Regions from separate parts of the Homo sapiens genome. Here region 2 is linked to region 1. Evidence: fine-mapped expression QTL. Tissue or cell type: whole blood. Region 1 holds a variant in brackets; the other region holds the start of a gene. All regions are shown on one strand. Distances are between the middles of the regions.

Region 1 (2,500 bases):
TGACAAATTTCCAAGGGAGGATTCATTTTATTTCTGTGCTCTGAATATTTATTTAGAACACAATGCTACTCATTGTAATTTCACAATAGCTTTTTTTTTTTTAATTAAGCCTAGTAAACCATACTACTTTGTGAGCTTTACTAACCTCACTAACTCTCTTATTCCTTCCTACTGGTCTAGCATCTTAGACTAAACACCAGCTAGAATGTGGAGTTAGGCAATCAAGTGTGAAACTTAACTTGTACTTGTGTAAGTATTAATATATACTTTTACTCTTTAAACTTGTTAAGAATGAGAGATTTCCAAATTAGTCTTGACAGACAATCAGTTTTTGATGGACTTCCGAGTTTTAACATATGAAAATACATTTTTGTTTATAAAATATAAATTCCAACAAGGGTAGCTTGGGTTCTGAGCTAATTATTAGGGAATTCGAGTTTCTTCCTTTACCTGGAGAAGAGTAGCCTCAGAACTGATAGAGAAGTTAGAGAGGGGCCTTAAGTGGACCCTCAAGAAACAGCACCTGAACTTTTGGGGCGGCTGAGGTCAGCAGGATTTACTGAGGACTGTTAGGTGCCCCGAGGGCATTGCCTTGGCCAATTCATCCTTGTAACAACCCTGTCACCAAGCAAGATATTTCACTGGGCAGGAAATGAAGACCCACGTTAAATTAAATGTTCAGACATCTGTCTAGGAAACTGGAGCAGGTGGGGAACTTGGCTCCTTTGACGTTCAGTCAAGTATAAGAACAATGTAATTTGTGTTCTTCTTGCTTATTGCTATTTAGTTTCTTGCAGCACAGCTCTTAAAGCATGACAAAGGAATGGTCATCTCTGGAAGTATTTTTAAATGGAGAACTAATCCATCAGTCATTCTTGCCTGAGGAGGATTCTCTGCTCTCCTACTCTCTCTCTCCCTCCAGTATTTAGGGCGTGCCTATTTTGTGCTGGTCAGAGTGCTTCATGGCCCTCCCTGTGGCTCTCACACTCAAATCGGGGACATAGATAATCAAGAGAAAATGATTAAATACAGAGTGCAAATTCTGAGACGTCCTATGCAGGAAGCGGAGTGCAGTGAGGGGGCACTGGTGGTGGGGGATGAACTTATTTAGAAACTTCATCAGGGCTGGCCTGCCAGAGAAGGTGGCATTTAAATTGACGCTTTCAGATAGAAGAGGCAGCCAAGCAGAGATGTGAATTCTAAGACAGGAATAAATTTGGACAGAGACTGAAAGAGGGCAGTGAGGTTGGCTAGAGCTTAGTGGCTGTGGGAGAGCATCACAAGACTGAGTAGATGAGGTACCTTCTTCAACCAATGCGGGGGCAAACAAAGAACCCCTGGGAGCCTCTGTACATCAGGTCCAGTACTCAGTGCTGGCACAGAGCACCCTGAAACCCTGACTCCTATTCTCATGGTCCATTCTATTCCAGCCCCAGGAAATGCTTCTCCCCATGTCTTGCTCTTTGTCCTCAAAACAAAAGGTGATACTGAGTTTCCAAATCTGCCAA[G/T]ATTCATAGGTAGTAGCAGTGGCAACACTGGAGAGAGTCACTGCTTTGTTGCTCAGGGAGGATTAGAGCTGTGGAAATTTGTAGGTAAGAGAAAGCACAAGCACATTAACTGGCTGTATGAGTCCATTTTTACACTTCTGTAGAGACCTGCCTGAGACTGGGTGATTTATAAAGGAAAGAGGTTTAATTGACTCACAGTTCTGCATGACTGGGGAGGCCTCAGAAACTTACAGTCATGGCAGAAGGTGAAGGGAAGGCACCTTCTTCACAAGGTGGCAGGAAGGAGAATGCATCTGGGAGGAACTACCAAACGTTTATAAAACCATCAGATCTCGTGAAAACTCACTATCACAAGAACAGCATAAGGAAAACCACTACCATGATCCAATTATCTCCAGTACGTCTCGCCCTTGACACATGGGGATTATGGGGATTATAATTCAAGATGAGATTTGGGTGGGACACAAAGCTTAACCATATCACTTGTCAAATCCCTTCCCTCAGCTTGAAATAGCATTCTAATTGTTGCAAAGTATTTTTTCCATGTAGTGTTGAACATCTATTTCCTTGCATTTCTTTATGAACCAAATATGGTCGGGAATTACTCATACATTAGCATGGAATTTGTGATACTTGCACATGGTGGCTAAGGAATATTAGACAATTCATCTTATTATTAAATTCACAATATTCTTACATTCATATATATGTATGTTTAGCTATAATACGTGTGAGGTGGTGACTCCACTGGTGACTAGGAAGACCTTGAAAGTTTAATTACAAATAGCTTTACTTTTGTAAAAATATTTAATAAGATGTAATTAAATCTTCATAAGAAAAAGATTTTAGTTGAATTTCAATACATTTAATTTAAAATTTGACATTATTATTTACATTTGCCTTTAATTTTAAGGTAGTTTATATTATTAAAAAAACTTTTCAAAGTACATGAAAAATATGTTCAGTTTTTTATATTTAATTGGTATTTTCAT
Region 2 (2,853 bases), 140 kb before region 1:
TGGTTGGTTATGGTGGGGAGTAGTAACCCTAGCATAAAGACGTTCTAATTCTAACTTACCTTAGGTAACCTATAAGGGTAGCTTACGCTCACTCTCATACTTGAAAATCAAAACCGAACAGAATTCACACGATGGAAGCAAATCATGCTACAACCTACTATTAGAGACTGAAGGGAAACGCACAAAGATTAATGAACAACAAAGAACACTTCAAAAAGTACAGTATTTGGAAAAGACATGCCTTTATGTACACTAAAACTAATTTAAAAAATTAAATGCAGTTTGCTAGGAGTCTTACAAGTATTAACAGCATGTTCACTGCTTAGGATCCTTAGTAGCAATATTTTCCCGGCTCGCCTGCCCCTATGCCTCATTTCCTCTTCTTTTTTTTTTTGAGATGGAGTTTCGCTCTTGCCGCCCAGGCCAGGTGCCATCTCAGCACTGCAACCTCCGACTCCCGGGTTCAAGCGATTCTCCTACCTCAGCCTCCCGAGTTGCTGGGACTACAGGCGCACGGCACCACACCCGGCTAATTTTTGTATTTTTAGTAGAGACGGGGTTTCACCATGTAGGCCAGGCTGGTCTCTAAGTCCTGACCTCAGGTGATCCGCCTGTCTCGGCCTCCCAAAGTGCTGGGATGACAGGCGTGAGCCACTCACCCGGCCCTCTTCTCGACTTTCTATCCCTCCTCCTCAACACCCTTTCCTTCTGGAAATGGGCTTTGGGGTGGTTAACCAAGCCCAGGGAAACTTGCGTGGCCCAGCATCTTCCGTCCGCTGCAGGAGGAGCACACGCCCCCGGCCCGGGTCAGCAAGACGCGAGAAAGCGGCCACGCCGGGCGTCCGGGAGCTGAGGCTGGAGGGCGCCTGGCAGGCAGGGCGGGGCCCAGGCGGCGGGAGTGCTTATGACCGGCGCTGGGGGGAACTTCTGGACGTCAAGGGGCCACTATAAAGCGGCACAGTCTTGAGCCTTCGCTCTTCACCTAAGTCAGTGAGCGCCCTTCGCAAAGCCTCTGTGGAGGTAACCATTGGGGGTTCGCCTCCAAATCCAGGAATGCACCTCAAAAATGCTCCTACACCGTAAGACCGTGTCCTTCAATGCAAAGGGGACTGTGCGGCGAGGCACCGACAAGCCGTAGCCCTGAGACCACTGAAAGCCTGCACCCCAGCGCCGGTGCGAGAACGTGGAGATGGCGGTGGGGAGGAGAGGTGGAGGCCATGCTCTCGCGTGATCTCCCCTACCGCCATCGTCTTCTGGCCTGTCAAGGCCTCGCGTTGTTTGGGCTTGGGGGCGGAGCGAGCCCTGAGGGGGGCGGGGCCAGATGGGGGCGTCTCCCGGCCTTGTTGACTTTGGCGTCCGCGGGGAGCTGCCCCTGTGCCCGTGGTTCTCTGCGCATGCCCGGACCCCGGCGGCTCCGGAGTCCGGGAGGCTCTGGCTGCTCCAGTCGCGGGTCCGGGCCCCGCCTCTCCACTCGGCGGTGGCGTCCGTGTTGTTATTGTGGTGGTAGCGGCGTCTGGCTGCTGCGGACCCCGCCGAGTCCTAGCGCCTGGCCTGCGCGCCGCTGCCCGCGCCACAGGTAACGCCGCCGCCAGTGGGGGCTCGGGGTCGTGGGGTGTGCGAGTCCCGCGTGCTAGGGCCGGGCGGGCGACTGGGATGCGCTTGGAGGCCAGAGGGCCAGGGGGACGGCAGCCGAAGAGTCGGGGGCAGGGGGACTTAAGGGCGGGCAGGTCGGGGGCCAGGAAACTGAGGCGCTGCGGGGCAGGTTGGGGGAAGGACGGGCCGGGGGCGGAGGACTTGGGAGGTCGGGGAGTCGAAAGGGGCCCAGCGAAGCCTGGAGGTCGGGAGCCGGGGTCCCTGGGGCCGGGGAGGTCGGGGGCCCGAGGGAGGCCGGGGCGCCGCGTCCTCGGCCCGTCCTCGGCTCGTCCTCGGCTCTGACCTGGGCTTGGGGACCAGAGTCCCGAGGCTGGCGTCTTGAGATGCCCGCGGGCCCCTTAGGGCCGTTTTGGATCCGCCCAGTGACTTCTGTTTTGGTTTTGGAGGCAGAGAATCCAGTCTACGTAGACTCGGGGAAGTCTCGGGGGCTGGGAGGGGACTGAGAGGTTATAGCAGGCGCCAAGGCCTCTTTTTGTGTTTTTGAGCGTCTACTACCGTTCCGGGGAAGTGCAGTGCCCGCGTTTTGCTTGGGGAATTTCAGACACCGGCATGGGGAGGACCCACGGGCAGAACCCGAGGGAGTAATTTTGCAAATCCAAGATTTTTTGGAACTTCTATAATTTTGTTTTCGTGTGTCCTCTTTTTAGAATCGAGAAACCAGAGATATATTTTTAACATTACAAATCAGAAGAATTTGCTACGGAGGAAAAAAGTATGCTTTTAGCAGTGTTTTTCCCCTATTTATTTTTTTAATTACAAAAGTACTGCTTGCTCCTTGAGAAAAACATGAAGCAGCCAAACAATGAGGAAACCTGCCCTCTCTCGCGCCCTTCCCCCCATATTTCTCCTTCTTACTACCCAGGGTAGCCAGTCTCCAAGTGTGGTGGGTAGTTATTCAGGATTTTTTTTTTCTGTGCATTTAATGAGTGTGCTTTAGAAACAAGATTGGGATCATATATAGTACAGTATATCGTTTTATTAGCCAACAATGCATCATGGATATTCCTCCATTTTATTACACACCTCATTATTTTAAAAAACATTATTACTATGTATTAGAGAATCCAATCTACGTAGGCTTGGGGAAGCCTTTTCTTCATTGTTAAACATGGTCGCCAAGTTTTCAATAATCAGTAGCTTTGAAAAGGGCTACAAGCCAATATTTTGAAACAATGTGGCAAAACTTTCAGAATGTCTGCG

Evidence for each region. PIP is the estimated chance that this variant, and not a neighbour inherited with it, causes the effect.
Region 2: it holds the start of PCMTD1, and the variant in region 1 is fine-mapped to the expression of PCMTD1 in whole blood (INTERVAL, PIP above 0.99).

The regions. Positions count from the first base shown.
Region 1 is chr8:51,757,963-51,760,462 of GRCh38, reverse strand. The region is part of intron 1 of PXDNL (peroxidasin like); the gene reads left to right. LOC105375833 (a long non-coding RNA gene) reads left to right here. Exons shown (of 3, transcript XR_928869.3): 2 at 181-249. Among named protein-coding and RNA genes, the nearest start is that of PXDNL, 50 kb to the left of the region's middle. The variant G/T (reference allele first, on the strand shown) is at 1,509.
Region 2 is chr8:51,897,653-51,900,505 of GRCh38, reverse strand. PCMTD1 (protein-L-isoaspartate (D-aspartate) O-methyltransferase domain containing 1) reads left to right here and starts at 1,470. Exons shown (of 6, transcript NM_052937.4): 1 at 1,470-1,576. It overlaps PCMTD1-DT (PCMTD1 divergent transcript), which reads right to left and starts at 1,191. Exons shown (of 4, transcript NR_189279.1): 1 at 660-1,191. RefSeq lists enhancers at 354-413, 714-773, 944-1,233 and a silencer at 1,274-1,963.